Linked DNA regions of Homo sapiens: region 2 is reported to be linked to region 1. The links are microRNA targets in miRTarBase. Many come from high-throughput screens and were not tested one by one. Region 1 holds a microRNA gene; the other region holds the end of a gene's coding sequence.

Region 1 (3,394 bases):
GTAACAATGCAAAAGCTTCACAATTCCTAACCTTATCTGTGCGAAGCACTCGGATACTTTTTTTTTTTTTTGAGGCAGGGTCTTGCTCTGTTGCCCAGGCTAGAGTGCAGTGGCACAATCTTGGCTCACCACAGCCTCTGCCTCCAGGGCTCAAGTGATACTCCTACCTCAGCCTTCTGCATAGCCGGGACTCCAGGCATGCGCCACCACGCCTGGCTAGTTTTTGTATTTTTTGTAGACATAAGGTTTCACTATGTTGCCGAGGCTGGTCTTGAACTACTGGGCTCAGCTACCTGCCCACCTCAGCTTCCCAAAGTGCTGGGATTACAGGCATGAGCCACTGCACCCGACCGGATATTTTCTATTCTATTTCATTTTGTTAAAATTCCCAATCAGAACCCACTAAATTAATTCTGTGGGCCATCAGTAGGTCACAACTGGCAATTCGAAAAATTGAAACTTTCCAAACTCCGTTGCCCTGTGGGGGCCCCTGTGCATGGCAGATGCTCTGCTTTGTGCGAGGGGAAAAGACCATATGGCTACAGGGCAGGTGGATGAGGGGAGTGGGCGGCAGGCACAGGCAATGAATGCAGGAAGGACTGGGAGGGCACCCACCCCCCAACTGGGGATCCAAGAGGCCAAGGTGGCCTGAATGGACTGACCCCTTCCTGGGTCTCAGCTCCTGTCCCAGTCCCAGTCCAGCCCGCACTCACAGCATTGTCTGGATGGAAGACATAGGAGGCAGGTGAATTGTCCAGGATGAGCACCCGCCGCAGGTCTCGACCCAACCGGCTCAGGTCCTTCACGTAGTTCCCCCGGTGGAAGACGCAGGACTCTCGAAACAGCCGGGCCCGGAAGGCCCCCCATTTGTCCAGCAGGTCAGCTACTGGGTCTGCGTACTGGGAGCAGGAGGTGGGTCATCCTGGGGCCCGCAGGTTCATTGGGCTGCATGCGGGAGGTAGGTAGGAGGGCAGGGTTGCCCCGGGACCCCTGTGGGGCTCACCTTGGCGAGGCTAGCAGTGAACAGCACACATTCAAAGAGCTCGCCCATTCGCTGCAGGAACTCATCCACGTGAGGACGCTTCAACACGTAGACCTGGGGGGCGGGCCAGTGAGGGGGCTGCGGGCCAGTGGGGCAGTGTGGGGGTGGCCGAGGGCTGGCAGGGCATGGGCCAGGGAGGCAGAGGCGCACAGGAAGGAGACTGGGCCCGCAGGCTCCGCTTGGCCAGCTACCCTGACCACTGCTGGGGAAACTGTACCCACCCCCCGCCAGAAAACGATCAAAACTTCCACTCCACTGGCCAGTCCTACCTCACGAGGTCCCTAATTCCCAATCCCTTCCCCTGCCTCAACCTCAGCCTAGTGCAGGAATCCAGGGGCAGCCCCCTCACCCCAAGGCTGCAGGGCACCGGTCCCCGAGCCAAGTAATGGAGAACAGGCTGGACAGCACACAACCTATCCTGAATTACTTGAACTGGGTCCCGGGCAGGGTGGGGCGAGGGAGCACAGCACGGGGGAGCCTAGAGGAGGAGCCCACTCTGCAGGCTTGGAGTCAGCACAAGCCCTTGAGGTTCTGTGTGACTTTGGGACAAGTCTCACACCCTCTCTGGGCCTCTGACATTCCACATGTATCCAATTCCCATCCGAGGCGCTCCGGATTGGTGGGAAGAGCCTAGGGTCTGGAGGCAGATGCCAAGCCCACCACTGCCTCTTCCTGGCCCTCACCTGGTGGACCACCCCATCAATCTCCACAGGGATGATGAAGTCCGCGTTGTTCACTGGCTGTGGGGGGAAAAGAGCTGCTGGAGTTGGAGGAGGAGCCCCAGGGCATGGGGTCCAGCACACACCTCCCTCCCAGGCCAGGGTGGGGGATGCCCCCCGAGACCCGGGCTGAGGGCTGTTGAGCAGGGCCCACCTTGAAGGAGCTGTGCACCAGGGTCTCGTCCAGGTCGATGACCACGCAGATCTTGTCTGAGTCCTGGGCCTTGGCCTCAGGGAGCAGGTATTGGACTGGGGTCTGCTGTAGGGAGGGCGGGGCTGGCTGGGGTGCCTCTCTCCGGGCCTGGTCCTTCCTCCCACGCAGGCTTCTCCCCCTAGCCGTCTCCAGAGGAACCCCAGGCCCCAGGAACAGATACTTCCCCCTTCCCAGCTTTGCCCCTGCCAGCTCTAGGGCTTGGGTAGGCCTCTTGGCTCTTTGAGACCTCTCTAAAAACCAAGGTAGGAAAAAGCTTCCACTTATGAGGGAGAATTCAGTTTCCCCACAGTGGGCAGGGCCTGGCAGGGGAGGCTGCCACCCTCCTACTCTGCACCTTTCAGGTCTGCAAGTCCATCCTGAAAAGCTCAGTCAGGAGCCCCTTCCCCTAAAGCCCTGAAGACTGAGTCCAGGTGCCCCCGTGGCCCCACCTGGCCCCCACGCACCTTAGGGATGGCGCCATTCTCCTCCACAAGCAGGGGCGCCCCGCTGTGAGCAGGCAGGGCCTCCCCATCATCCCGGCAGACACAGCAGAAGAGTGAGTGGAGGATGCCCCGGCTTCGGGGCTTCTGGGAAGCTGCTGACTTCTGGTCACCTGAAGTAGGGAGGCACAAGTTGGAGGCTCGGTGCACACTGGCCTGCAGAATCCTGCATGTGTGCCCAGGTGTGAACCCCTGAGCCAGGAGGATCTTGCCGTGGCCCCTTCATCCAGACACACGAAGGCAGCTCCTGACTTTCTCTGAAACGCCCCTGTCAGGGCTCCACAATCAACTGCAAGGCTCCTGCAGCTCCCAGACAAATAGGTCTAGCAGGTATTAAGGCGCCCACATAGGGAGTGCGTGGCCTGGAGAAGGAGGTCCTGGGGTGCTCTCTCCCTGCCTCTCACAGCCTCCATGACTGCTGCTGATCAGCCCCATTGCGGTGCCTCCTGACCCCACCTTACCTGAGCACCCCTGCTCAGGACAGCCAGGGCCTGGGACCCAGGGCAGTCCACCCCTGCCCTCCCTCCATCCTCTCCACCCCCGTGGGTACGAAGTCCTCACTGCGGCTGGGCCCAGAGGCAGGGGTGCAGTCCCGCGGCCTGGGGCCAGTGTCCAGTGGCCATCTGTTTGCCCTGCCCCGCCCAGACCTCCGACCTGGAGCCCAGCAGCCTGATTGACAGATACCCCTCCCACCCCACCCCCCTCCGGCCCCCTGCAACTAGCCTTTCCACCTTGCCCTCAGTTCCGGGGCAGCCAGACCCAGGCGAGGGTGGGCAGACCTGGGGGCAGCGTCCAGATCCTGAGGTCCACACGGGGAAAAGGAGAAGACAGACCCCCCCACCCCGGCCCAGCCACGCTGGGGGACGCAGCCTCGTCGGGGCGGCGAGGCTTTGCGGGGTGGTGCGTGCCCACTAGGCGCACGACTCTCCCCGCGGGCGCC
Region 2 (3,394 bases), not on the chromosome of region 1:
AGAACTGCCCCTCCTACCACAGGATGTTTAGGGTTCCTGGCTGCAACCCCCAAAGGTCCTAATGGTGCTGGTCATGGGGGGATCCACACCATTGTGACAACGAAATATGCCCACATGATGCCCAAGGCTTCAGTCCTGGCCCCACCCTTCCACTGTGTCACTGTGCTGGGTTGGTTTTCTCATCTAAAACATGGTGATGGGGATAACAAACTTGAAAGAGTGTCATGCAAATGAGGTGTCCAGCATCGGGAGGTGTCCAGCATCAGGAATATTAATAAAGGGTCCCCAGTGATACCGGCCGAGGCATAAGCAAACTCCACTGCTCCTATTATCTGCACCTGAAGATTTACACCTTGCATATATGTGGATCCTTTTCCAATTTCTTCTGTATTAAACATTCTCTCCTGTATCAGAAAGTCAGGTTATGGGTTGGAGCTACAAATCTGCCCTTCGATCCATCCCCCCCATAGAGTGCTTTGCTGGCCGTAAGGATGGACTGCAGACAGCAGCTCCCTTTGAGGCCGCCCCCAGCTCCTCTCTTTCATAGCGGGCTGTGTGAATCAAGCTCCAGCACTTCTACTGTGTGATCCTAGATCAGTGTCTGAACCTCCCAGAGTTTCCTTCTCTGCAGATGGATGTGCCGATAGCCCCTGCTACACAGGGCTGAGCTGAAGGGGAAATGAGACAGTGAGAGCAAAGGGAGCCTGGTGCCAGGCATGTACCGGGCATTCAGAAGTGGCTAACCATGGTAGCCTGTCCCTAGTCTAAAGCCCTGGGCACCATGCCCCCACCTCCACCCCCTCAGTTCCTTCCCGCTTGACTTCAGGAGCTGGATTCCCTCCTCTTGCCAGAAAAGTCCAGCTCATACTGCCTACGGCACAAATTCTCACACCAACCATTAGGTTCCTGCCAGGTCCTGGCCAGTCCCAACACCATGAAGCAGGAGGGCAGGCGAATTTTGAGCAGAGAGACTGTTTCTGTTTGGCATCAGCCTCTGCCAATGCCCAGGAAAGCTGGAATGCTCTCCTACAAGAGTGACAGTTCCCCACACACTAAACATTCTTTTTTTTTTTTTTTTTTTTTTTGAGACAGAGTCTTGCTCTGTCGCCCAGGCTGGAGTGCAGTGGCCGCCTCCCGGGTTCAAGTGATTCTCCTGCCTCAGCCTCCCAAGTAGCTGGGACTACAGGCATGTGTTACCACACCCAGCTAATTTTCTTTTGTATTTTTAGTAGAGACGGGGTTTTGCCATGTTGGCCAGGCTGGTCTCAAACTCCTGACCTCAGACGATCCACCCACCTCAGCCTCCCAACGTGCTGGGATTACAGGCGTGAACCACCACGTCCGGCCAATTCTGTCTTTTGATGGAACAACAGAGGCTTAGACTCCAGGCTCCAGTTACTTTTTTTTTTTTTTTTTTTTTGAGACAGGGTCTTACTCTGTCACCCAGACTGGGGTGCAGTGGAGCAATCACAGCTCACTGCAGCCTCAACCTCCCTGGGCTCAAAGTGATCCTCCCATCTCAGCCTCCTGAGAGACTGGGACTACAGGTGTGCACCACCACGCCCAGCTAATTTTTTTTTTTTTTGTATTTTGTTTCGCTATTGCCAGGCTGGTCTTGAACTCCTGAGCTAAAGCAATCAGCCCGCCTCAGCCTCCCAAAGTGCTAGTGCTAGGATTACAGGTGTGTGCCACCACACCTGGCCAGGCTCCATTTAATTCTTTTTTTTTGGAGACGGAGTCTCGCTCTTGTCGCCCAGGCTGGAGTACAATGGTATGATCTCGGCTCACTGCAACTTCTGCCTCCTGGGTTCAAGCGATTCTCCTGTCTCAGCCTCTCAAGTAGCTGGGACTACAGGTGCCCACCACCACGCCTGGCTAATTTTTGTATTTTTAGTAGAGACGAGGTTTCACTCTATTGGCCAGGCTGGTCTCGAACTCCTGACCTCAGGTGATCTGCCCACCTCAGCCTCCCAAAGTGCTGGGATTACAGGTGTGAGCCACCATGCCTGGCCAGCTCCATTTACTTCTTGAGAAACTCATGGTTCTCTTTTTAGTCACTTTGGTCACAGAGAGATTATTTAACATCGTTTAATAAAAAAGTAGTAGTGCAAACAGGAAAGTAGCATAAAAATATAGTGTTGTTGTGGAAGGCTGGTGCTTGCTGCTGAGAAGCTGAAGCCAGAGGAGGCCAGGTGTGAGGAAGGAGGATTCTTTAAAGGCAAGAAGAGAGAGGCCTGCCTTTAAGAGCCAAGAGAGCCGCTCATCCATGACCCCAACACAGAGCTCTGTAGAACTGCTGTCACACGCCAAACACCAACATAAGGGGGTGAGAGAATGAACTCCAGCCGCTTCTCCCAACACAACCCAACAGAGCTATTCTGGGACATGTGTGTTTGCGAGCTTGTGTGTGGAGAGCACCAAAAAGCTCATCAGCAGCCCCAGGCCTCTGTGCGGTCTGGTTTTCAGACTGGCACCCGCAGGCAGTGCATCTGAAGCACCTTCTAGTTACTATCCCCATCTGGAATCTTGGTTTTCTCCATTCCATGTCACCTTCTATTGCCAACCCAAGGGTGCCAGTGCCTGTGGGTCTCATTATATGATACTCTCTTCCAGGACTGAATCCGCTAGTCTGGCCAAAAAAAAAGCACTCAGCCACATCCTACTCCCCAATAAATGTCTCTGGGGTCTTCATTTTCTCTTCCGGCTGATCCTCAGTTCATCCAGTTCCTTCTCCATTAAGTGGGATTCAGCAGTGGACTCTGAAAGCTGAAAGTGAAGCAGCGGCTGTTAGCAAGCAGCACATTTCTAGGAAATGTTTCGGGTTAGCAAGGCCGGCCCTACACACGGAGGAAAGGCCCCCTGCCACTTCTCTGATGCTGCTGGCTTCCTCGATGGGAAACCCTCTGTAACTGGGTAGAATGCAACCCCTGATGACCCAGGACCACAAGTACTTGAAGAATATTCACAGTCCACTCTGTCAGCACGCTGTCACCCACGAGGGCATGGCACTCCCTGCACGAAGGAGAGCAGGTCTCAGAGGACGTCAAAGGCAGATACTGGTGATTGTAAGGCTAAGGGATTAGAGCTGAAATTGATTCTAAGCTGTAGCTCCCATAATGGGGATGAGGGGAAAAAATGCTAGAAATAGAATGCCACTTTCCTCCTTAGGGTTTTTTTGTTTTTGTTTTTTGGTTTGTTTGTTTTCTGAGACACGGTCTCGCTCTGTCGGCCAGGCTGGGTGCTTTTCTTGTACTAACTCACTATGAGGTAGATACTACGATTATGCTCATTTTTAAAAAAAAACATCCAGGCCGGGCGTGGTGGCTCATGCCTGTAATCTCAGCACTTTGGGAGGCCAAGACAGGGAGATCACTTGAGGTCAGGCGTTGGAGAC

The links. Region 1 holds the annotated microRNA hsa-miR-26b-5p (UUCAAGUAAUUCAGGAUAGGU, at 1,454-1,474, opposite strand). A microRNA usually pairs through its seed, bases 2 to 8, with sites in the 3' UTR of a target mRNA and lowers its output. Matches are read on the target gene's strand: a 7mer-m8 pairs with bases 2 to 8, a 7mer-A1 pairs with bases 2 to 7 and ends in A, and an 8mer does both.
Region 2: miRTarBase lists CBY1 as a target of hsa-miR-26b-5p. The part of its 3' UTR that is shown has no 7-base or 8-base seed match.

Annotation. Positions count from the first base shown.
Region 1 is chr2:218,400,737-218,404,130 of GRCh38, reverse strand. It overlaps MIR26B (microRNA 26b), which reads right to left and starts at 1,485; the gene lies at 1,409-1,485. It overlaps CTDSP1 (CTD small phosphatase 1), which reads right to left. Exons shown (of 7, transcript NM_021198.3): 2 at 2,419-2,567; 3 at 1,916-2,020; 4 at 1,726-1,782; 5 at 1,004-1,096; 6 at 714-899.
Region 2 is chr22:38,672,531-38,675,924 of GRCh38, reverse strand. It overlaps CBY1 (chibby 1, beta catenin antagonist), which reads right to left. Exons shown (of 5, transcript NM_015373.4): 5 at 2,075-2,766. The coding sequence ends at 2,689. TOMM22-DT (TOMM22 divergent transcript) reads left to right here. Exons shown (of 2, transcript XR_007068097.1): 2 at 1-409. Among named protein-coding and RNA genes, the nearest start is that of TOMM22-DT, 7.6 kb to the left of the region's middle.